7 linked regions of the Homo sapiens genome follow. The protein of the gene in region 7 purifies or fractionates together with the protein of the main gene of each other region. This does not show direct contact. Each region holds a gene or a part of one and is shown on either strand. Other genes may lie near its edges.

Evidence for each region.
Region 1: the proteins of MYO10 (region 7) and PLOD1 purify together in Homo sapiens (affinity purification with mass spectrometry, with the first as the bait; one large-scale study listed by BioGRID). This does not show direct contact.
Region 2: the proteins of MYO10 (region 7) and KRT74 purify together in Homo sapiens (affinity purification with mass spectrometry, with the first as the bait; one large-scale study listed by BioGRID). This does not show direct contact.
Region 3: the proteins of MYO10 (region 7) and COTL1 purify together in Homo sapiens (affinity purification with mass spectrometry, with the first as the bait; one large-scale study listed by BioGRID). This does not show direct contact.
Region 4: the proteins of MYO10 (region 7) and SEC16A purify together in Homo sapiens (affinity purification with mass spectrometry, with the first as the bait; one large-scale study listed by BioGRID). This does not show direct contact.
Region 5: the proteins of MYO10 (region 7) and CRTAP purify together in Homo sapiens (affinity purification with mass spectrometry, with the first as the bait; one large-scale study listed by BioGRID). This does not show direct contact.
Region 6: the proteins of MYO10 (region 7) and SPRYD3 purify together in Homo sapiens (affinity purification with mass spectrometry, with the first as the bait; one large-scale study listed by BioGRID). This does not show direct contact.

What each region holds. Positions count from the first base shown.
Region 1 is NC_000001.11:11,972,717-11,976,037, reverse strand, and holds the end of PLOD1 (procollagen-lysine,2-oxoglutarate 5-dioxygenase 1 isoform 2 precursor), read right to left. Parts: intron 3,167-3,321; coding exon 3,041-3,166; intron 1,386-3,040; coding exon 1,230-1,385; 3' UTR 501-1,229; downstream 1-500. UniProt on the Homo sapiens protein: Part of a complex composed of PLOD1, P3H3 and P3H4 that catalyzes hydroxylation of lysine residues in collagen alpha chains and is required for normal assembly and cross-linkling of collagen fibrils.
Region 2 is NC_000012.12:52,565,282-52,568,062, reverse strand, and holds the end of KRT74 (keratin, type II cytoskeletal 74), read left to right. Parts: intron 1-369; coding exon 370-404; intron 405-894; coding exon 895-1,094; 3' UTR 1,095-2,281; downstream 2,282-2,781. UniProt on the Homo sapiens protein: Has a role in hair formation. Specific component of keratin intermediate filaments in the inner root sheath (IRS) of the hair follicle.
Region 3 is NC_000016.10:84,590,579-84,594,078, reverse strand, and holds part of COTL1 (coactosin-like protein), read left to right. Parts: intron 1-3,500. UniProt on the Homo sapiens protein: Binds to F-actin in a calcium-independent manner. Has no direct effect on actin depolymerization. Acts as a chaperone for ALOX5 (5LO), influencing both its stability and activity in leukotrienes synthesis.
Region 4 is NC_000009.12:136,448,541-136,452,040, reverse strand, and holds part of SEC16A (protein transport protein Sec16A), read left to right. Parts: intron 1-632; coding exon 633-785; intron 786-3,500. UniProt on the Homo sapiens protein: Acts as a molecular scaffold that plays a key role in the organization of the endoplasmic reticulum exit sites (ERES), also known as transitional endoplasmic reticulum (tER).
Region 5 is NC_000003.12:33,117,014-33,120,513, forward strand, and holds part of CRTAP (cartilage-associated protein isoform 1 precursor), read left to right. Parts: intron 1-3,330; coding exon 3,331-3,480; intron 3,481-3,500. UniProt on the Homo sapiens protein: Necessary for efficient 3-hydroxylation of fibrillar collagen prolyl residues.
Region 6 is NC_000012.12:53,069,391-53,072,890, forward strand, and holds part of SPRYD3 (SPRY domain-containing protein 3), read right to left. Parts: intron 1-3,500.
Region 7 is NC_000005.10:16,926,289-16,929,788, reverse strand, and holds part of MYO10 (unconventional myosin-X), read left to right. Parts: intron 1-3,500. UniProt on the Homo sapiens protein: Myosins are actin-based motor molecules with ATPase activity. Unconventional myosins serve in intracellular movements. MYO10 binds to actin filaments and actin bundles and functions as a plus end-directed motor.

The sequences.
Region 1 (3,321 bases), on a different chromosome or scaffold from region 7:
GTTTCTACAAAAAATACAAAAATGTGTCAGGCATGGATACCTATAATCCCAGCTACTCAGGGGTCGAGAGGCTAGCATGACCTTTCTTAAAGGCTCTAAAAAGAGGGCTCTTGGCCGGGCACGGTGGCTCATGCCTGTAATCCCAGCACTTTGGGAGGCCGAGGTGGGTGGATCATCTGAGGTCAGGAGTTCAAGACCAGCCAGACCAACCTGGTGAAACCCTTTCTTTAATAAAAAAACAAAAATTAGCCAGGCGTGGTGATGGGTGCCTGTAGCCCCAGCTGCTCGGAAGGCTGAGGCAGGAGAATTACTTGAACCCAGGAGGCGGGGGTTGCAGAAAGCGGGGATAGCGTCATTGCACTCCAGCCTGGAAGACAGAGTGAGACTCTGTCTCAAAAAAAGAAAAAAAAAAAAAAAGAGGGCTCTTAAAACCTCTCTCCCTGCAGACACTCACACCAAGACACACACACACCCACTCGCCCTGAGCATCTTCCCTTCAGTGGTTTAAATGACCTTTAATAGAAACTCTCCAGTTTCTGACGGTCTGTCCCTCTCTTCAGAGGCATCCAGGACAGGGTGACCCAGTGTGGTGTGTGGACCTGTCACTCCCCTCCCCACAGGCAAGTAGAAGATCGAGCTGTGCACAGATGCCTCTTCTGTCTCCCAAGAGGTTCTCTGGAGTCGCTGTCTCCAGGGGACTACGGTTTGCTCTCATGACCAGCCATGGAGGCAGAAGTCCCAGACTCAGGGCAGCCCTTGGAGTCTGATCCAGGTGTCTTTACCCCAAAACTTGAAGCAGAAGTCCCTGGTGCAACACCTGTGCCTGGGAGAAGCTCTGGCCATGGCTTCTCACCCAGACAGTCTTTCTGGGCAACTTGGGGAAGCCCCTGTTCTGCTCAAGTCTCACCCCATGGAAGAGGTGGGGGAAGGGGGCCTTGGTTTTTCAGGAAGACAGGTTGGAGAGCACGAGTCACTACAAAGCAGTAAAAGTGAATGGTGTCTCCAGGGGCTGGGTCCAGAACACCACGGAGAGCCCCAGCCATAAAGGTGTGTTCCGCCTCTGGCCTGCAGGAATCTCTTTGAATCTCTTTGATTGGTGGCTCCAAGAGCAATGGGAAGTCAACAGCCAGGAGGCTGGACTGGGTTCCCTGGGACCCCGAGGTCCCAGAGGCTGCTGGGCAGTGGTTGTCGGCAAAGAAGAAAGGTCCAAGAGGGTCAGGCCTGGCCAATTAGGGATCGACGAAGGAGACTGCGATGTAGCGGGTGCCCCTGGTGGTGGGGAGCCCCTCATGGTAATGCGTGAGTCGTCCAGGGTGCATGAGGGTCCAGCCCTTCCTTGGGGCTCGGATGGAACAGTTGTAGCGCAGGAACCGACAGCCCCCGCCCTGGGAGACAGAAAGCATCAGTGGCCTTTCCCCACCGCCCCCCTGCCCGTCTGTTCTCCCGTCATGATCTCCTGTCATGGCCAAGTGGCCCTCAGCACTGCCTGCCTGGGGATGCCTTCTGGAGTGACAGCCACAAGCGCTGCTAAGGAAGACACTAAATGAAGAGTAGTGGCCAGGAGTGGTGGCTCACGCCTGTAATCCCAGCACTTTGGCAGGCCAAGGCGGGTGGACCACCTGAGGTCAGGAGTTCAAGACCAGCATGGCCAACATGGTGAGACCCCATCTCTACTAAAAATACAAAAACCAGCTGGGTGTAGCAGCGCACGCCTGTAATCCCAGCTATTCGGGAAGCTGAGACAGAATCACTTGAACCCAGGAGGCAGTGAGCCGAGATCGCGCCACTGTACTCCAGCCTGGGCAACAGAATGAGACTGTCTCAAAAAAAAAAAAACCCAAAGAGTAAGTGATCAAGAGCTCTGTCCTTGGAGTCAGGCAGCCCTGGGCAGACATCACCTCCACTCTTTACTAACTGTGACCAACCTGAGCTTCAGTTTCCCCTTCTGTAAAATGAGGGTTAAACAGAACAGGATAGTGAGAATTAAATGAGATGTTACAATTGAGAGCTGAGGATCAAGCTTCCCAACCTCACCACTATAGACACTTTGCTGTGGAAGGCTGTCCCGGGCATCTCTGACTTCTACCCACTAGATGCCAGTAGCCCCTCATAGTTGTAAAAACCAATTATGTCTCCAGGTACTGCCAATGTCCCTTGCAGGCCACAGTTGCTCCTGGTTGAGAATCCTTGGATTAGGGATGCCTGATATGTTTGTTGTAAGCTCTCAAAAAATTATAGCTCCAGCCTGGGCAACATAGTGAAACCCCATCTCTAAAAGCAAGAAAAAAAATTAGCTGGCCATGGTGGCACACGCCTGTGGTCCCAACTACTTGGGGGGGCTGAGGTGGGAGGATTGCTTGGGCCCAGGAGGTTGAGGCTGCAGTGAACTGTGATCATGCCACTACACTCCAGCCTGGGTGACAGAGCAAGACCCTGTCTCGAAAAAGAAAAAAAAAAGGATTATAGCTGTTTTTATGAGTGTTCTCCACAGCACCCAGCCCAGGGCTAAGTTCAAAAAACCTCTTTTTGTTTTTTTTGGAGACAGAGTCTCGCTCTGTTGCCCAGGCTGGAGTGCAGTGGCATGATCTCAGCTCACTGCAACCTCCACCTCTTGGGTTCAAGAGATTCTCATGCCTCAGCCTTCTGGGTAGCTAAGATTACAGGTGTGTGCTACCACGCCCAGCTAATTTTTCTATTTTTAGTGGAAATGGGGTTTCGCCATGTTGGCCAGGCTGGTCTCAAACTCCTGGCCCCAAGTGATCTGCCTGCCTTGGCCTCCCAAACTGCTGGGATTGCAGGCATCAGCCACCATGCCGAGCCCAAAAATCTCTTAAAATAGTAGCTTAAGAGCCTGGCCCCTCCTCCTGCTAGACTGTGAACCCTTCCAGGAAGCCCTCCCACAGACCCACATCCTTTTTTTTCTGGTTCTCTGGCACTGGTTACCTGGGGCCCCTCTGCCTCAACCACCCTGAAGCCTCTCCTCAGCTAGCCCTCCTCATCCCCATTGCCGGCCCCTTGACCCCGGCTGGCTCCTGCTCACCTCGTAATCCACCCCGACTCGGTTCAGGGCGATGTTGATGGTGAAGGTGGAGGCATCATGGTGTGGCATCAGTGAGGGCTGCTCATCAGGCTTGTAGCGGACGACAAAGGCCAGGTCAAACTGGGCCTGTACCAAGGCAGGGGGACAAGAGAGCCCGTGTTAGTTAAGGAGGACACAAAGGCCAGGAGAGGAGGGTGCACACATGGGGCCTGGTCTGGCCTGCTGCAGGTCAGCTTACAGGGGCCAGGTCTACATGGGGCTCTATGCTCGAGTGCCTGCAA
Region 2 (2,781 bases), on a different chromosome or scaffold from region 7:
ATGTGGTGATTTCGTGAACTCAGAGGCAGCTTCCTGCAAGGGGTTGTTGGACATGAGCCATGAAGCGTAGATGGCCGTGTGCTGCTGTGATGAGAACCGGGGGCTCAGACAGACCTGGGGCTAATGACTGGCTCTTCAGCAGGGGCTAATTATTGGCTTTATCCTATGCTAGTGGTGTGGTCTCGGTAAATCATCTAGTATCTCCAGGACTCTTGTTTTCTCATCTGTAAGATGAAGGCGATAGTGTCAGTTTCGTAAGTTGTTATAAGGATGAGTTTAAATGATGCACGTATAAAAGCAGGAGCCCATTGATGTTTAGTGGAATCTCGACACTGAGTTTTTATCTTTCTCTAACTTTCTGTCTCACAGGATGTCTGGTGAGAATCCATCCTCTGTGAGCATCTGTGAGTATTCTTGAGAGATGCCTTGGGTTGGGAAAGCCAGGGACCCTGGGACAAAGTGATGTCACCTCCATTTACTGTCTCACCTCCCAAGAAGCTTCTGTTACTGTCTTGGGAAGGTTTCTGGGCTTCAAAGGAAATGTTCTCCCTTTTCATCCTGTGAAATGGTGACTGAGGTCATGCCCACCCTTTTCCCTTCCTGTTTCTCCCCTGGGACGTTGTCATTTGGAGAAAGGGTTGGTGGACATGGATTTTCCTAGCATTTCCAGGAGGGCAGGGACTGTATCTATCTGATGGGGTCTTCACCTCACACGAAGTCCGGCCCGTAATAGGCTCTCAGTTCATCTCTGTAGTGCTTCTTGACTACTGAGGGTGGTTCTGCGGATTAAATGAGGTGTTGTTGTGGAGAAGCCCTTGGGGACAGCCGTTACCATAGCTGTTATCTGCTGATTGACACTGCTCCTCTCCCCTGCTCTTGGCCCCTCCTCCTCAGCTGTCATCAGCAGTAGCAGCTACAGCTACCACCACCCCAGCTCTGCGGGTGTTGACCTTGGGGCCAGCGCTGTGGCAGGCAGCTCTGGCAGCACCCAGAGCGGGCAGACCAAGACCACAGAGGCGCGAGGGGGAGACCTCAAGGACACCCAGGGCAAGAGCACCCCAGCCAGCATCCCAGCAAGGAAAGCCACCCGCTAGACCCATGGCCTCACCCACCTCAGCACTTGGAAGAAGAGGTGACTTTGCCACCCCCAAAGGTGTCTGCCACACCCAAGTTCCCAGGCCCTGAGTTTTAAAACTGTCTGTAGTACACTCAACTGTCTGCATCGTGGTTTAGCTTTTACTTTCAAGCTCTGATTGACACAGTCACCTTCCCTGTTTCCTTAGGTCCCATGTGGACTAACGACTTCTCATTTTCCTCGCTGCCTTTGGCTGGCAGGAGGCTTTGGAGGCACAAGCCATTATAACCTTCTTGGCCCTAAGGAAGCTGTGATCATCCCTAGAAAGAGGGAAGGAGCAGGAGACGACAGGGGAGGGGCTGGTTTGTTCTGTGCTTAGGCCAAGTTAGCTACTGTCTGAGAGGTTTTACATCCCCTGCCAGCATGGTGGGGTGACACGAGACCTGTAAGCAGGTGGTGAGAAGTTAGACAGCCTTTACTTGCTCCATCAGAAACAACTTTGCAGGATGACGCCAATATTTAGGACACCACGTGTACATCTGTAGACCACCAGCTGCACCCATCTCCACAAAGCCAAGTGAAGGTGTATTGGGGATTCTCTGCCAGCCTGTGTCACCCACCCACCTCCTTCATTATCAGCAATAGCTACCATCATTTGTCAAGCACCTACTAGATGCCAGACACCCTACACATATTGCCTCCTGTTCTCATCCATTCCTGCAAAGAAGATGCAATGAGCATCCTTGGAACAGACTGGGAGCCTGATCCCAAGAGGCTGCTGAACTGGCCCCAGTCACCCACCTATGTGCCAGAGTCAGGCCTGGCCGACACAAGGATCTATGCTTTTTCTGTGGTGTGTCACTGCCTTTTTAACAAAAGGGCTGTCAAAGTCACCATTCTTTTTGATGAGGGCAGCGTAATTACATTGCCTTTTGTCAGGACTGTGGGTATGTGATTTGTCTTCCACAGTCTCTCTGGGGCTGTGTCCTACATAGCTTCTGACTCTCAATTTTTGGTGCCATGAGCTGAGCTCAGTGAGTGGAGCTGGCTTTTCTGTCGCTGAGTGCTACTGCCTAGTCCAGATGTCGTGGCTCAGGGTGTAAATATTCCTAAGAATGGCAGCATCTATTTCCTCTTTTGTTTGAATTAAAGACTCTGAATTTCTGCTGTATATTCATTAAGTTGTCCTTGAGTGTTGTCAGAGGTATGCTTCTGTCAGTCTGTTAATCTTTCCAAATGTTCCACCCTCTAGTGATGATGTGCCACCCTCCATTTCTCCCCAGCAAGCGTGCAGGACTCTTGCTGGGAAGCTGCAGGCCAACTCAGATGAGGCTGCTCTGGAGGCAATCTCAGGCTGCTGGAAGAGACAGATACACACTCATGTAAATCAGGGAAGGGCAGCCTAAGGCAGCAATGCTAGTAAGGGACTGGAATAGAGAGGCTAAGCAAGGAAGGCTTCCTGGAAGAGGAGGAGAGTTTAATTAAATAACCAGAAAGATGGACACATGGGCTCCTGGAGAGGGAATTTAAATCACAGCAACATAGTAGTTTGGACACAGGCTTTCATGTGCTTATTTAGTAGGGGGTGGGAGATCTCAGATTTTCCAAAGTCAATACAGATTGGGTATACCTTATCCAAAATTCTTGGGACCAGAAACATTCCTGACTTTGGATTTTGAAATGTTTGCATGTGCATAATGAGATAC
Region 3 (3,500 bases), on a different chromosome or scaffold from region 7:
ATGATCCTTGGAGATGTGACGCTGAGTGAAAGCCAGACCGCAGAGGCCACATAGCATATGAGTCCATTTCAATGAAATGTCCAGCACAGGCCAATCCATAGAGACAGAAAGTGGAAGAGTGGCTGCCAGGGCCTGGGGGAATGGGGTGGAGAATGGGGAGTGACTGTTCTTGAGGACGGGAGTTCTCGTTGGAGTGGTGAAATTAGATAGTAGCGATGATGGCACAACATTGTGAGTGTCCTTAAAGCCACTGAATTGGATGCTTTAAAGTGGTTAAAATGGCCGGGCGCGGTGGCTCACGCTTGTAATCCCAGCACTTTGGGAGGCCGAGGTGGGCGGATCACGAGGTCAGGAGATCAAGACCACGGTGAAACCCCGTCTCTACTAAAAATACAAAAAATTAGCCGGGCGTGGTGGCGGGCGCCTGTAGTCCCAGCTACTCGGGGGGCTGAGGCAGGAGAATGGTGTGAACCCGGGAGGCGGAGCTTGCAGTGAGCCGAGATCGCGCCACTGCACTCCAGCCTGGGCGACGGAGCGAGACTCCCTTCTCAAAAAAAAAAAAAGTGGTTAAAATGGTGAATTTTGTTATGTGACTTTTATCTCAATAAAGAAAAGAACGTGTTTTACAGGTGAGGCAGCCCAGGCTGATGTTTGGGAATTCAGGCACAGTCCCCGGGGCATGGGAGGTGGGGCCCTCACCCCTCGGGGTCTCCTGTGCCCTGGACTCCTCTGTCCTCACCTTCTCACATCCAGTTGGTCACCAGGCCCTGTGGATTCACCTGCGCAGTGTCCCTGAGACCATCCTTCCTTCTATCCCTGCTGCGTTGTTACCTACTGACCCCCAGATAGCCATGGCCTGGTGGGGCATTTCCCTGGAGAAAGGGGGCTGAGCACACACACCCAAGGTGTCCAGGCCCTTGGCTCTGGCCTCGTGTTGAGAGTCTGGCCACATCACGTGGCCTCTGAGCCTCCAGCCCTTATCAATGAAGGTGATTTGGATGTTGATGATGAAAGTGGCCATGACGTCTCTACCTCATCTGCCTCCCAGCGTTGTTACAAAGACCAAATGAGATGAAATAGAAGCATGTTTTGTAAACTGAAAAGTGGTGTGCCAATGTGAGTGGTGATGACGATCAGTTTCCTTTAAGAAGTAAGTGTTGTGGAGTCCCTGACCCTGGACTGCAGCTAGGATCACGCATTCATGGTCTGCTGAGAGCTGCGTGTTCCTTAGCTCCCGGGGACAAATGGATGACCCGTTAGACCACCCGGCTTCTTGTTGAAGGCGAACGTGCTGGTTACCCCCTCCGGTTTTGAGATAATCACCAGGAAGTGAGCTTGTCAGCTGCAGGCCAGTATCTCCTGTAGACAGGTGGTTTGTGTCCTTGGGTCTTGGTGCTAACCTACATGCTTCGTGCGGGACTCTGCAGGGACGTACTTAGATTCTAGGAAGAAACGCAGATTGATTTTTTTTTTTTTTTTTAACTCAGTGTGATCCTTTGACCAGTAGCATCAGCATCACTGGGAAGCTTCTTAGAAGCGTAGACCCCAGAGCTGTTTAATCAGAAGCTGCGTTTAAGATTTCCCCAGTGATTCAAATCCACACAATGTTTGAGAAGCAAACATATCGCTCTACGATATCATTAGGTGCCTGAGAAACCCTCACACCAGCAACTAAACGCCCTGAGAGAGCATCAGTTTATGCAAGTGGCTAATACAAGGTGAATGACTCCAAACCAGTGGCATCCCTATGTGCCAGCAACCACCACTTAGGAATTGTAATGAGATCTTGGTGATAATGGCAGTTAAAATATGAACTGTTTGTGAAGTAAGCTGAATAAGGATATGTGATCCCCTCAAGAGGCACAGAACTTTGTTGGAAAACACAAAAGGGGTCCCAATTAAATGGGGACACCAACGGTTTACAGCAGAGGTTCTCAACTGGGGGTGTTCTGCCCCCTTTGGAGGACATCTGCAATGTATGGAGGCATTTTTGTTTGTCATAACTGGTGGGGCCAGGTGAGGGGTGCTGCTCAGCACCCTGCAATTTACGGGATGGTTCCTACCAGAGAGAATGATCTGGCCCCAGATGCCAGTTGAGCTGATGTTGAACAATTTTGGTTTATCCTAGTGGGGTACACATGCACCCGCATGCACACGCACACACATGCAATGCACACATACACATGCACGCACATATTTTTATTTTATTTTATTTTATTTTATTTTATTTTATTTTATTTTATTTTATTTTATTTGAGACAGGGTCTCAGTTGGCCACCCAGGCTGGAGTACAGTGGCGTAATCTCTACTCAACTGCAGTCTCAACCTCCTGGGCTCAAGTGATCCTCCCACCTTAGCCTCCCTGGTAGCTGGGACTACAGGTGCCTGCCACCGTGCCCAGCTAATTTTTTGGTTTTTTTTTTTTTTTTTTTTTTTTTTTTTTTAGAGAGGTGATTTCTCCATGTTGCCCAGGTTGGTCTCAAGCTCTTGGGCTGAAGTGATCCTCCCACCTTTGCCTCCCAAAGTGCTGGGATTACAGGGGTGAGCCACCATACCTGGCCAATACACACATCACTTTAAAAATTCAAAAAATCAGGCTGGGCGCGGTGGCTCACGCCTGTAATCCCAGCACTTTGGGAGGCTGAGGCGGGTGGAATACAAGGTCAGGAGATCAAGATTCATCCTGGCTAACACAGTGAAACCCCATCTCTACTAAAAATACAAAAAATTAGCCAGGTGTGGTGGTGGGCGCCTGTAGTCCCAGCTACTCGGGAGGCTGAGGCAGGAGAATGGTGTGAACCCTAGAGGCCAAGCTTGCAGTGAGTCGAGATCGCGCCACTGCACTTCAGCCTGGGCGACAGAGCGAGACTCTGTCTCAAAAAAAAAAAAAAAAATTCCAGAATATCAAATGATATTTTGATAATACAGAGCAGTGGAGGGTGGGGGAACTTAGCATAGTGGATTGTGAAACAAATTTTAAAGTCATGATAATAAAAACAGTGTGGCATTGAAATAAAACTTAATGTGGATCAATGGAACAAAATAGCCCTCAAAGCCATTTTAATAAAAATGACTATATAAGATAGAACAAGCATAACACAGCCAATGGAAATGTGTTCAGAATTCATTGTTGACCTAATTGCCCTAGTCATAAGTGAAATATCCTCGGAGCCATATCCCGGGCCAAATTAAGAGCCATTTTCTTTGTTTCCTCTTCATACCCAGCACCCCCCTTGCCCCTCCTGTCTCTCTACAGTGTAGAGTCTCATTCCAAACTGCAAAGATTGAGGCAAAAAGAGTTGATGAATTTCTGGTCTACAAAGAGGATGAATTTCTGGTCCCTAAATAAGATCCATAATTTGAGCCTTTTTAAATTTTTATTTTTAAATTTTTTTTGGCTGGGCCCTGGCACTGCTGGCGGCACCCACATCTGTGCAATGGGCCCACCCAGACTTTGAGCCTTGATTGTAGGAAGGCTGTAGGCGTTGCAGCCAGAAAGG
Region 4 (3,500 bases), on a different chromosome or scaffold from region 7:
AGACATGTTTGGTATAAATACCTCCTCTGTTTGCTCTACTCCTAACCAGGAGGGATGGTTGCTTTTATACAGACCGCATTCTGGAACCTTCTTTACAGATACCCAGCCCTTCACGGGCATCCCATCAGTAGGCGATTGCTATAGTTTGAACTTGCATTAGGTGTTTTACCCTTTAAAATACTGTGTCCCTGGAAAAGTAAAAATGAGGGTTGAGCTATTAAAAATTGGGACTTGACCCAGGAATAAATATTTTTAAAAATCATTGTATCTTTGAGAACACCCATCGCCCCCCTCTGGCCAGTCTTCCCTCAGTGCATGCTCACACTCCGTTTCTTCCAGCCCGGAATCTCCATCGAACGCCCTCATTTGCATTCTGAGTGCTGAGTGCTCCCAGACGGAGCTGCTTATTAAGTGCGGCTGGCTCTTCTCTAGTCAGGCCAGGTAGAGGCTCTGGGAGGCCCAGTCAGGGGGCTGCTCTCCCCAGCCCCCTTCCTGCCTCCCTCTGGTCACCAGAGTCATCCGGCCTCTCAGTGATGTATTTAGGAAACACGCCTGGGGAATTGCATCCCCCTCTCTCTTTCGGTTCCTGTGAGGAGCCCCAGGAGAGCCTGTTCTGCATTTCCTTGCGACAGACCCCCTCGAGGACGGTGCCAGACTCGGAGGCCCCCCCAGGGTGGGATCGTGCCGACTCGGGTCCCACGCAGCCACCTCTGTCTCTCTCACCCGCTCCCGAAACAAAGAGACCCGGACAGGCAGCCAAGAAAGAAACGAAGGAACCTAAGAAGGTAGTACAGCCTGCCCACGGTGCGCCTGGCGGCCGGGAGGGTTTGGGCAGGAGGCACGCTTCCCAGAGCGCCATCCTCTTAATTCACCACACATGCAAATAGCCTCCTGATACAAACAGCCGAGTGTCTACAGTGCACACGGCATGATGGGTGTCTGTGTATTTGTGCCTTCAGATAATAGGATAATAGCCCACCCAGGTCAGCATGGGGACACAGCCCGGCCCCCAGAGGTCGCCTCTGGCCACTACCTGTCAGACCCACCCGCAAGGGACCAGACGGCAGCCGCTGCTTTGTCACTGTGGTGTGTGCCTGCTGCCGGCTCACAGATCCTTTCTCCCAGCCGTGGACTTTGGGACTGCTTTCAGTGTGGGGCTGGGATCCGTCAGGCCCCAGGAGCCTCCTTGCCTATCTATTGGCGAATGCGCTTGTTTTTCTTAGGTGCGTGCCAAGGAGCTGAGGGTTTAGCTCGCAGGATGAGCGTGTGTTCAGCTTTAGGAGACACTGCTGAGCAGTTGTCCTAAATGGTTGGTTGCCCCAAGTCACACATCCTGCAGCAGAGGACAAGGGCCCTGGATATCCCTCATCTTCACCAATACTGGGCAGTGCCGGTTCTTTAACTTAGCCATTGTGCTGGGGCTGATGACATCTCATTGTGTCTTCCTCTGCATCTCCACAGCGAGGTGTGACGCTGGGCACCTTCTCGTGTCCCTGTTACCATCTCACCACTCTTTTGGGGCAGTGCTTGTTCAAGTCTCTATCCGTTGTTTTTTTTTTCCCCCATAAAGATGGGGTCTCACTATTGCCCAGGCTGGTCTCAAACTCCTGGGCCCAAGTGATCCTCCTGCCTCGTAGCTGGGACTGCAGGTGTAGCCACCACACCTGGCTTTCCTTTCCATTTTTAATGGTGTTCTCTTCAGGACTTGCAGGAGTCCTTTCTGTATTATGGATATAAGTCCTCTGTTAGGTGTATTTATTGTGATATCTTCTCCCAATCTGTAGATTGCCTTTTTACTTGTAATGGTTTTTTGTTTGTTTGTTTGTTTGTTTGTTTTGAGACAGGGTCTCACTCTGTCAGCCAGGCTGGAGTGCATTGGCATGATCTTGGCTCACTGCAACCTCCGCCTCCCAGGTTCAAGCAATTCTCCTGCCTCAGCCTCTCCAGTAGCTGGGATTACAGGTGCCCACCCCACTCCCAGCTAATTTTTTGTATTTTTAGTAGAGATGGGGTTTCACCATGTTGGCCAGGCTGGTCTCAAACTCCTGACCTCAAGTGATCTGCCTGCCTTGGCCTCCCAAAGTACTGGGATTACAGGTGTGAGCCACCATGCCCGGCCTAGTAATGGTATTTTATGAAAAATATCATTCTTCATTTTAATAAAGTTCAGTGATCAGATTTTTCTTTTATGGCTGCTGTCTTGAAAATAAACACACATTTAATTCCAAATTTGTGTGAGCTCTGAGATAAAACATGATACTTGAGCAGGTTTCCAGTGCATAGGCTATCACAGGCCTCCCCGGGACAGCTTGTCTGGCCAGTAGAACTCACAGAGAAACAGAATTGAGGGTGTGTAGTAGCTGCTGAGGCTTCTCCTCTTTCTTCAGTAGAAGTGAAGTGCATCAGGCCGGGCATGGCGGCTCACACCTGTCACCCCAGCACTCTGGGAGGCCGGGCGCAGCAGCTCCTGCCTGTCACCCCAGCATTCTGGGAGTCAGGGTGCGGCGGCTCACGCCTGTCACCCCAGCACTCTGGGATGCTGAGGCGAGCAGATCATGAGGTCAGGAGTTCACGATCAGCGTGGCCAAGATGGTGAAACCCCATCTCTACTAAAAATACAAAAATTAGCCATGCATGGTGGTGGGTGCCTGTAATCCCAGCTACTCAGGAGGTTGAGGCATAGAACTACTTGAACCCGGGAGGCAGAGGTTGCAGTGCGCCGAGATCGCGCCATTGCACTCCAGCCTGGGGGACAGAGCGAGACTCTGTCTCAGAAAACTAACAAACCAAAATGAAGTGCATCATGTGAAGAATAAAGTAAAGTTTCCTAATAACCGAATTCTCCACACATGGGAAACACAGAGGGCTGTATCTGCCTCCGACACACACTGACTTGGACAGCCCGCCTTCCACTTCTCAAAGGGGAGGACGTCGGAAGCTTTGTCAGTGTTTAGACGTAAAAAGTTCCTGAAGGCACGTTACTGTTCTGACCTATTTAAATGACAGTAAAATACACAGAACAAAATGCACATTTTTACCATTTTCTGAGTGCACAGTTCTGTGGCACCAAGTACATTCACACTGTTGTGTTGCCATCACCACCATCCATCTCCAGAACTGTCTCACCTTCCCAAACAGAAACTCTGTCTCCTTGAAACGAAACAACTCCCGGTTCCCTCCCACCTCCATCCTCCTGGTGTCTCTGGATCTGCTTCCCACCTCCATCCTCCTGGTGTCTCTGTGGATCTGCTCCCCACCTCCATCCTCCTGGTGTCTCTGTGGATCTGCCCCCCACCTCCATCCTCCTGGTGTCTCTGTGGATCTGCCCCCGACCTCCATTCTCCTGGTGTCTCTGGATCTGCTCCCCACCTCCATCCTCCTGGTGTCTCTGTGGATCTGCTCCCCACCTCCATCCTCCTGGTGTGTCTGGATCTGCTCCCCACCTCCATCCTGGTGTCTCTATGGATCTGCTCCCCACCTCCATCCTCCTGGCGTCTCTG
Region 5 (3,500 bases), on a different chromosome or scaffold from region 7:
GGAGGATCACTTGAGCCCAGAAAGTCAAGGCTGCAGTGAGCTGTGATCTTACCACTGCACTCCAGCCTGGGTGACAGAACAAGACTCTTGTGTCAAAAAAAAGTGATGTTTACGTGTTTAAACTCTGTTTATGGATAGAGAGGAAAAGATGGGTGGCAGGCACATACATTCTACCTGGCACCTGAAGGCTGGAGGTCGATATGAAGGTAGATAGTGCGCTGTGGCAGGACATGGATAAATGTTACTCTGCTGTTCTGAGTTGCAGTTCTCTGTTTCAGTGATTAAGGAGAAATGCCTCAATTGATCACTGGAATAGCAATGGTGGGTTCCGACTGCCAGAGGGAGGCGAGGAGGTTTGGATGTGTGCTCTTGTAGAAAAGGGCTGTGCTACTGGTGTGCAGCCTCAGGTGCATCATAGGTTTCTCGTCACCAGCCTACTCTAGGTCCATGTCATTAGCTTTCTTTGGGTTCTCTCCACAATTACCATCTTCCACGAAAAACTCATTTTTCTCATAGGCCAAGCAAAAAGTAGGCCGGAGCACTTCATCAAATCCTTAATGACTGTTGAGCTCTAACCTGGACAGAGAACACTGACTCACAGGCACTGTTAACCCCAGGCCTTGCCTGGCTGTGGCCTCTAACTCCCCGGAACCACAGGGCCTGCCTCTGTGTCATGGCTGATTTAGGGTGGCTCATGCTGGTGGCTGTATCTCAGGAACCCAAGGCAAGGTGGTTCCCTCCATCCCTACCACCTTCTCCAAAATCTGCCTGGGGTCTGTCAGAGGTTTGGTAGCCAAGATGTGTCTCCATGTTCCAGCTGCAGAGCCTGAGTTGAAGTAAATAAAATCACTCTTTTCTCTTCAGGAAGAGATTCCGTTTTGTAAAACATCCTAAGTTAGAAGCCTTAAAAATCCTACTCTGTGCCCCTCTTTCTATTCCTTTCTTTCTTTCTTTCTTTCTTTTTTGAGACGGAATCTCACTGTGTCACCCAGACTGGAGTGCAGTGGTGCGATCCTGGCTCACTGCAACCTCCGCCCCCCGGGTTCAAGTGATTCTCCTGCCTCAGCCTCCCGAGTAGCTGGGATTACAAGCACCTGCCACTGTGCCTGGCTAATTTTTGTCTTTTTAGTAGAGATGGGGTTTCATCATCTTGGCCAGGCTGATCTTGGACTCCTGACCTCGTGATCCACCCACCTCGACCTCCTAAAGTGCTGGGATTACAGGCATGAGCCACTGCTCCCGGCCTCTGTGCCCCTCTTTCTAAGTGCTGTTCTGAGAATTAGTGACTCTAATTTCACTGGCAAATGCTTTAAAAGGCAGCATTCATACCCTCTCCCTTCCTTCCAGCTGAAGACTAGCCTTTTTCTGGCCAGGAGTGTGAAGCTTTCTGTAGGGCTGTTTTAAAGGCAGCCCTGCCACAAGCCACTAATTGGCATTCCCAAAACATCAGCATTGACATCTGGGAGTCTGCCCTCATCACCACCCACCACTTCTCTGATGTGGCCACTGCCATTGTCTCAAAATGACTTGGTTCCAATTCTGGGGCAATTCGGTACCGATATATGCCATCCTATGACTCTTAGAAGTCTAGGGTATACCAAATATTCCTTTATTTTCTCTGTCTAAACCGAATTCCCTAATTCCCGCCTTGGAGCGTCCCTCTGGATTGGCTGAGTCTCTGTGCACATGCACAGGTGCCTGCCCTTCTCCCTACTAGGTTGTGCCAAGAGTCCATCAGCATGGGGGCCCTCTGGTTGGTGGTCATGAGTCCTCACAGGGAGGCCTCTGCATCCTTATTTGCCTGCCCTCCTGAGGTCCTGCCATAACATACCTGTTCTTCCTGAGGACTTCTGCCGTCTTGAACACTGCCGATAAGTGCCAGCCCTGAAGCTCCGGGGCCCGCAGCCCTGCTGCTCTCACAGATCCCAAGGGAAACTTTTTTCCTAGCCTGGGAGATTCCCTTTCTCCCTCTTCTTCTCCCAGGCCAGTCAGCTTCTTCCTGCAGCTCCTCTCCAATTTCTTTCTCCCCTCAAACCTGTCAGGCTCTTTTGTGAGTGCAGGCTTTTTTCAAGTGAATAATTTGCTGGTTCTGACCAGATATCTACCTCCCCTGAGACAGTGAAACTCAGAATCATTGGCCCCTTCAATGGAGAGAAGACAGAGGGGAAAAGAGAGGAAAATGTGAATTAATTTTATTATATTTTATGGTCATAATGTCATTATGTTCAAATCACAGATACTTATTGTGTCCTGCCTTGTCCTGAGGACTGTGTGAGGCACCAGGAATCCAGATAATGAATGACACACAGCTGGGTCCCCCGAGGATCATAGTCTGATGGGGGAGATAGACGTACCACTGAGATTGTAGGGTGGCGTAAAATGCGGGAAGACAGAACCCAGAACTAGCCCAACAGAGAGGCTCTTAATTGAGGCCACTAGGAGACAGGGAGAACTTAACAGAATATATGGTCCATGCAGGTGGGGATTTTTTTTTCCTGTTTTGCTTATTGTTATAGACCCACAACCTAGAAATGGTGCTCTTGTAATATGACGTTTATTGCTGCATGAATGGATGAATAAGTGAGGAGGTGGTGGAGTCATTGAGAATGTTAGCAGAAGGTCTGTGGGGGATTTGGGAAAACAATATATTTGTCAAGGTGCCAGTGGAAAAGATATGGTGCAGTCATATTGGGTAATTGGAGGAAAGTTTAAGAAGGTGGTTATTTACAAAGGTGTGTGCAGTGCATGGGGAATCCACAAGAGATAGTGTTCTGCCACAGGGGTGATAGCAGTGGGATATGACCAACCCTAGGCCAAAAGGGGCAGGGGAGAGAGCAGTGATTGAAACCGGGAAGGAGGGAGACTCTATGGAGAGGGTCACCTTGAGAAGAACTGTGATCTTCAATTAAGGGACATAGCAGCCCAAGAGGACTGTGCAGGGAGGGAACCAGGAAATGAAATAACATGACCTTACTCTCTTCCCTTCCTCAGTCATCTACTGGGGCTCCTCATGGGTGAACCTCTTTGGAAGCCAGAGAGCGAGGGAGTCTGTTGTTATAGTCCACACAGGCCAGCCTCCTGGGGCATGTAGCCAGTGCAGAGTAGATTGGGAAAGGCAGACCGAGGCCATCCAGACAGTCGCTTTCAGGAAATCAGCACTTGTCTCACAGTGCCTGGACTTGGTCTTGAGGGGCCCTGGAAGTCATGGAACCTTTAGCTGGAAAAGTTATAGCAACACAAAGTTTCTGAAGGACTAAGCAGATATTCTTGTTTTACAAAAATTACCACTTAGCATCCATGGAGTAGCTTTTATGTTCTTTGTCCTTTTAGGCAAATAATCTCCCCAAAGCCATCGCCGCTGCTCACACCTTTCTACTGAAGCATCCTGATGACGAAATGATGAAGAGGAACATGGCATATTATAAGAGCCTGCCTGGTGCCGAGGACTACATTAAAGACCTGGAAACCAAGTCATATGAAGTATGTTTGGATTTTTATGT
Region 6 (3,500 bases), on a different chromosome or scaffold from region 7:
CAGGAAAGGAATTATGCCCACCTGCACCAGCACAGAAGCCTGTGCGTGTCTCCAGCAGAGGCTGCTCCCGCATCCCCACTCCCAGCCTCAGACGGCCGCTGCTTAGCTCAGGTGCTTAGAGCGGGGTGCTACTAACCCCTTCTGAGAGTAGGACTAGAGGGGCTTGGTGCCTTTCTCAGCCCTGGATCTCAGCCCCGCCACCTCAAGTCCATCCTTCCCTCCTCTCCAAAGATAACTGGGGATGGATGAGGGGGAAAGCAGCATGCACGGGAGACCACCTAAGCCCATCCCCAAGGCCACACTGTTTGACTTCTGTTCATGGTGTATTCTCTGCTCAGCCTGGGTTCCTCCTCTGCCTCTCTCCCCGGGAAGCCAGGAGGGGTGTGGCTTGATCCACATTAACTAGTTTAGACTCCACCCAGGCAGAGCAGCCCCCAGCCCACCCTCTCCACCCAGCATTGCAGAACTGGGTGGGGGACCCCACAGCTGCCTTTGACCCATTCTATCCAACTGGCCTCGGTGTAGGAAACACAGTGTTCTCCATTTCCAGAGCCAAAAGACAGCCGATCCAGACCCTGATCCTTGGGAAATACCCGGCCAGCCCCTCCCTTTGCCTCAGCTCAGAAGAGGGTAGCTGCTGCATTTCTGTCTCTGGATAGGGTGGAGGTGCTTTCTCACGCTAAAAGCCAGGACGGACTACCCCAACATGGGTCTTTAAAACCCACTCTCTACCTGCCAACCACAGAGCACTTCGGACAGAATGCTGATGTCCTGGACGACTAGGTACTTGTACAGTGTATAGGTGAGGCTTGTACAGCGTGCCCTCTTCAGAGGGGACCGCCCAGCCCTCACAGTGAAAGCCATCATAAACCTCCTGATCCACTCTCCTGCTCCTGGACAAAGCTCCCCCGACCCCTCCTGAGCCTTCCCAGAGAACTCAGAGGGGTGGAAGTGGGGGGAATATTTGGCCTCCCTGACAGATTCTTTCTTGAGTACATTCCTCTGCCTCCTTGGTCTATAGCTGTTAGGAACCTAGAGGAGGAGTGAAGGTTAACCCTTAGAGTCTGAACTGTTAGGATCTTGATGCTGGTCCCTCAACCTGTACCTCAGAATCCAACAGACCTGGGTTCAAATCCTAACTCCTATTACTTAACAGCCGCTAACCTCAGGCAAATGACATTCACCTCCTTAAGCCTTGGTTTCTTCAACAGTAAACTGGGATAAGATTACCTGAATTTCCAAAAACAAGTGGGAAGACTTAATGAAGTGACCAATACACATTGCTGCCTCTCCCTAAATCAGTGTAAATGGGGTTACGTTGGAATTGCCGATCACAAAGAAGGAAATGATCTTTCATCTTAGCCCTTACTTCCAACTACAATGGTCCCTTAGGCCAACCAGGACGATGGCCACTCCCCAGACAACTCTACCCTATGTGTCTCCTCTCAAACAATGTCCAATCAACAGAAATGTTTCTCTGCATTTTTGGTGGGGGAAGATGGAGCCCTTTCTTTGGGTCTCCCCCTAATACACACATACCACCAAAGCCCCAAGAAGCCAAAGACATGACTCAGTGCCACAGAGTGGCGGCTGCAGACCAGAGTGTGGACAGTCTCGTGCACTCCACACCCTCCCTCTACCAGTAGCACCTTCCCAGCCTCTTCTCCCCTGCCGGTATCCGCCCTCCTCCCCTTGCCAGCAGAGACCCTAATCCCTCTTGACAGGAGCAAGGAAGGGCTCAGTGCCCTGAGGGCCCAGAAGCAACTGAAACAGGAACCAAGTACACACTCTCCTGGCCAGCTCAGGCTCCAGCACAGCCTCCCTCTGGGCTGGGTCTGGGGAGGACCCCTGGGAGGGCGGGGCCTCATTCACCACCCTGTGTGTACCAAAGCTGTTGCCCCTGTCACTAAGGAGTTGTCAGAGGAGCTGTGAACAGGGCACAAACACAGAATGAGTCTAATCCCCCAGCTGTTACCTACCGCCCCCAGCTCCCCTCCACCACATTACCTCACTTTGCGAGGCCTGGAGGCAGGGATGAGGTGAGAGGCAAGTGCCCCAGCAATTCCTCAACCCCTCAGAGCTCTGAGGAGGTAGACTCTTTAGGAGGGGGAAACAGGCCACAGGAGGCAGGGGAAGAATTCCACTCAAGAAAGAGCCAGGTCTGTCTATATCCAAAGACTCAAATCTAACAACTGTTGAGGCCCAGGGCAGTGGCTCATGCCTCTAATCCCAGCAATTTGGGAGGCCAAGGTGGGAGGATCCCTTGAGCCTGGGAGTTGGAGGCTGAAGTGAACCAGCACTCCAGTCTGGGTGACAGAGTGATAGCCTGTCTTAAAAAAAAAAAAAAAAAAAAAAGGAAAGTTGGCATGACTGGAAAAAGGCACATGTCCCTCAGGAAGCTCACATCCAAGTTGGCCCCAGAGGAACGGGTGCCCCAGGAGTAGTGCTCCCACCCTGCCACCTGGCCCAAGCTGGGGTGAGGGTCTGAGAGAAGGGCCCAATTCAACAGCTTATGTCTAAAAAAGAAAAACACTCTTAAATAAGTGGCTGAAGGTGTTGGGGGGAGGGTGGGGAGGAAGGAAGGCTATTTATAAATGTCTACAGGATTCTGCATCAATTAGAAAAGATTGCCTGGGAGGAGCTGAGAGCAGAGTGGGGACAGGTCCAGGCAGAGAAAGGATGCCAGGAAAAAACTCTTGAGGAGAGGTCAGAGATGAGAGCTGGAACATCGCCCTGGCGCAGCCCCAAGTTTAACTCTGTAGATGTTGTCAGAATGATGGTAGATTGAGGGGAAAAAGGAAAGACATGAGAGTCACGGAGTGGGCATCTGAGGCCTCTTAGCTCTCGGTCGCTGCAGCCTGGGACCCTGATGCCAGACGGGGGTGCAGAGTGTCAGAAGCAGCAGGAGGGCACACTTCCTGTCATTTTCCCTGAGTTCCACTCCACCAGGGGGAGGCCTGGCTCCTAATCCGCTCCCACCCCCCACTGCTTCTGTTTTGTTATCAAAGACTGAGTTGAAAACAGCCTGGGTTGGGGTGGAAAGGCCAGAGGGTGGAGAAAAAGGCCAGGCCAGGAGCAAGGGGGTAGGAGAGGGACAATTCGAAGTGGGAGGGCTGAGCAGCCCACTAGAGGTCAGGGCCAGATCCCGGACTTGGCGTCCATTCACTCCCAATGCAGCACAGTGTATTGAGGCAGACAGGAAGAATTTTCCTTTCTCAAGGTTCATGAATTTTCCAACAAAACTTAAAATCCGGGGAGGAAGAATTCCCCTTTCTCAAGCTCCACACGCTTCCCAACGAAGCTTAAAATCCATACTAAAGCAGGTATGAGGAAAAGATAAATGAAGCAAGTTTGGAGGTGTAAGGATGCTCACTGAATCTTTATCTGCCTCCATTCTAATCCTCTATCAAATGCAGGGATAAGACAATAGAAACTGACATTGACACTTCCTCAAAAAAGATGGCTAAGAACCTTCCACCACATGTGTGGACTTCTGACCA
Region 7 (3,500 bases):
AATTGCATCTGTACTGAACATGTAGACTTTTCCCCATGGATTTTGGTATCTGGGGAAGGTCTTGGAACCAGTTCCCTATAGATACATAGGGACAACTGTACTTACCATGTGCCAGGCATGTTGCTGGCACTTCACATTTAGTGACTCATTTAATCCCTTGAACAACCCTATGGGAAAGGCTCTATAATTATACCCAATCCATAGATGAAGAAAGTGAGGCACAGAGAGGTTAAGTAACTGACTCAGTGTCACACAGCTAGAAAACGATAGCCAGGATTTGAACCCAGACAGGCTGTGTCCAGAGCCACAGAGAGTTCTTCACTGCCATGCTTTTCTGTCCTGTTGATGTCCTTTGCCTTAAACTTGCGTCATCTTCTCTAGGCTCTCTGATGAAATGCCCTAAAAGTGGGCAGTTATTAAATGATTTTCAAGTGGAAAACTGCATGGGAGTTTAGGAAAACAAGTAGTCCACACCCTAGAAATGTTGAAAACTCCGCAGGAAAATGTTCATCAGCTTTTGAACATGCCACTGATTTGGCCGGGTGCAGTGGCTCATGCCTGTAATCCCAGCACTTTGGGAGGCCGAGGTGGGCGGATCACGAGGTCAGGAGATGGAGACCATCCTGGCTAACACGGTGAAACCCCCATCTCTACTAAAAATACAAAAAATGAGCCGGGCATGGTGGCGGGCACCTGTAGTCCCAGCTACTCGGGAGGCTGAGGCAGGAGAAGGGCGTGAACCCAGGAGGCGGAGCTTGCAGTGAGCTGAGATCGCGCCACTGCACTCCAGCCTGGGCGACAGAGCAAGACTCCGTCTCAAAAAAAAACCAAAAAAAAAACATGCCACTAATTTTTATTTGATTTGCTTTTTTTGGGAAAGCCAAGCGCCTTCTGTTTCCTTCTAAAAATGTGTGTGTGTGTTTTTGTTGTTGTTGTTGTTTTTTGAGATGGAGTCTTGCTCTGTCGCCCAGGCTGGAGTGCAATGGTGTGATCTCGGCTCACTGCAACCTCCACCTCCCAGGTTCAAGCGATTCTCCTGCCTTAGCCTCCCAAGTAGCTGGGACTACAGGCGCCTGCCACCACACCCGGCTAATTTTTGATATTTTTAGTAGAGATGGGGTTTCACCTTGTTGGCCAGAATGGTCTCGATTTCCAGACCTTGTGATCCACCCGTCACAGCCTCCCAAAGTGCTGGGATTACAGGTGTGAGCCGTCATGCCCGGCCCATAAAGTGTGGTTTCTAAAGCTGGTTGTCCCAACTTCATGAGGATAGTAGGAAGGTTTACATACTAAAGCACTTAGGGCCATGTGCTCATGCCTGTAATCCCAGCACTTTGGGAGGCCGAGGCAGGTGGATACCTGAGGTCAGGAGTTCGAGACCAGCCTGGGCAACATAGTGAAACCCTGTCTCTAATAAAATCCAAAAATTAGCTGGGCGTGGTGACATGGGCCTGTAATCGCAACTACTTGGAAGGCTGAGGCAGGAGAATCGGTTGAATCCGGGAGGTGAAGATTACGGTGAGCCACTGCACTCCAGCCTGGGTGACAGAGGGAGACTGTCTCCAAAATTGTAATAGTAATAATAAAAATATTAAAACAAAATAAAGCACTTAGAAAACAAGATGATTTGAGAAGTGTTTATTAAAAGAAAATGTGGGACTCATTTGTTTCCCTAATTCCAGCTGTCAATTAATTAGTGAAGTGTTACTTGAGGTTTTTTGATAGAATCTTCTTTTTCAGTTAAAGATTCTGAGTGCTTTGTTGGAGTTTCTTCATATCACCTATCATTTGCTTGTTAGCTTATCGATACCCATGGAACAGTTATTGACAGGACATTGGGTCGTTTTCCCAAGAGCATTCCTTGAATAAAACATTTTGCTGCCTTGCTAAGAGGTGTTCAGAAAATATTTCCACCAGGCCTAAAGTAAATCTAGCACCTCATGTCACATGACATCATGTCATCTAATGCTGCCAGTTACAGGAAAAGACATTAGAGTTTTGGGGACAAAGCCACAACACATCTGTTGAAATACAGCTAGAACAAGGGAGAAACATATGGGAATTGTCCAACTAATAGCTCTACCTTCACCCAGTCCGACTCCCTGCCTGCTCTTAAGGATTAAAATTGCCTCCGTATAAAAGCATTTTAAATTACGGCAGTTAAAGGCCGGGCGCGGTGGCTCAAGCCTGTAATCTCAGCACTTTGGGAGGCCGAGGCAGGAGGATCACGAGGTCAGGAGATCCAGACCATCCTGGCTAACATGGTGAAACCCCGTCTCTACTAAAAATACAAAAAACTAGCTGGGCGTGGTGGCTGGCACCTGTAGTCCCAGCTACTCGGGAGGATGAGGCAGGAGAATGGCATGAACCTGGGAGGCGGAGCTTCCAGTGAGCCGAGATTGTGCCACTGCACTCCAGCCTGGGCAACAGAGCAAGACTCCATCTCAATAAATAAATAAATAAACAAACAAACAAAAGAAAATACCATAAGCAGAAGACACAAAGAAGCTCCCATGGTGTGGCTCTTCATGTTTGTGGTAGATGCATTGAGACTTTTTTTTTATGCCTTCATATATATGTTTCTGATAAAACACACCTGTAATGTTTTTCACTGAAGAGTTGATTGAGAAAAGCTTTAAATATCATTTGTGGGGCCAGAGGCAAGAGTACAAATTCAGTTCCCATATCACATACCTAAACATTTAAAAGTTATAAACCATGCTTACAAATTGGTAAATAAAATGGCTTCTACTCTGCCTGGACAAATACATCTGTCATTAGGGCAGAATCAACAAACATGTTTAAAGCTATGGGTTTTATTGCTGAAAGTCAGCAAAATATCAAACATGAGTGAATTTAATTACAGTTGCCTATGTCTGGGTGTTCTGTTGATGTTTCATGAGTAATAAATACGTATACTCCATAGTATATTTTTCATAAATCTATTTTTTTGTCCATATTTTAGCAAACTCACTTGTTATGTGGTTAGAGTCAAGATTGTCACAATAGTTTGTTTTACGGACAGTAATACCAAGGTGGAGAACCTTTCTTTGTGGTTCTTAGATTGTTCTTTTTTTTTTTTTTGCTGGGACAGAGTCTTCCTCTTTCGCCCAGGCTGGAGTGTAGTGGCGCAATTTTGGCTCACTGCAACCTCCACCTCCCGAGTTCAAGCAATCCTTCTGCCTCAGCCTCCCACGTAGCTGGGATTACAAGTGTGTGCCACCATGCCTGGCTAATTTTTGTATTTACAGTAGAGACGGGGTTTCATCATGTTGGCCAGGCTGATCTGAAGCTTGTGACCTCAATTGATCCACTAGCCTTGGCCTCCGGAAGTTCTGGGATTACAGGCGTGAGCCACCCCACCTGGCCAGATTGTTCTTTTCTTAATCTAAGTCTAGAGATGGCCTGCTTTGCTGAGGCAGGACAGTAGTTACTGACATTGTCAGCGAAATTCATACAGCACTATTTAGATTAAAAAAAGAATGAGATTGCATATGATA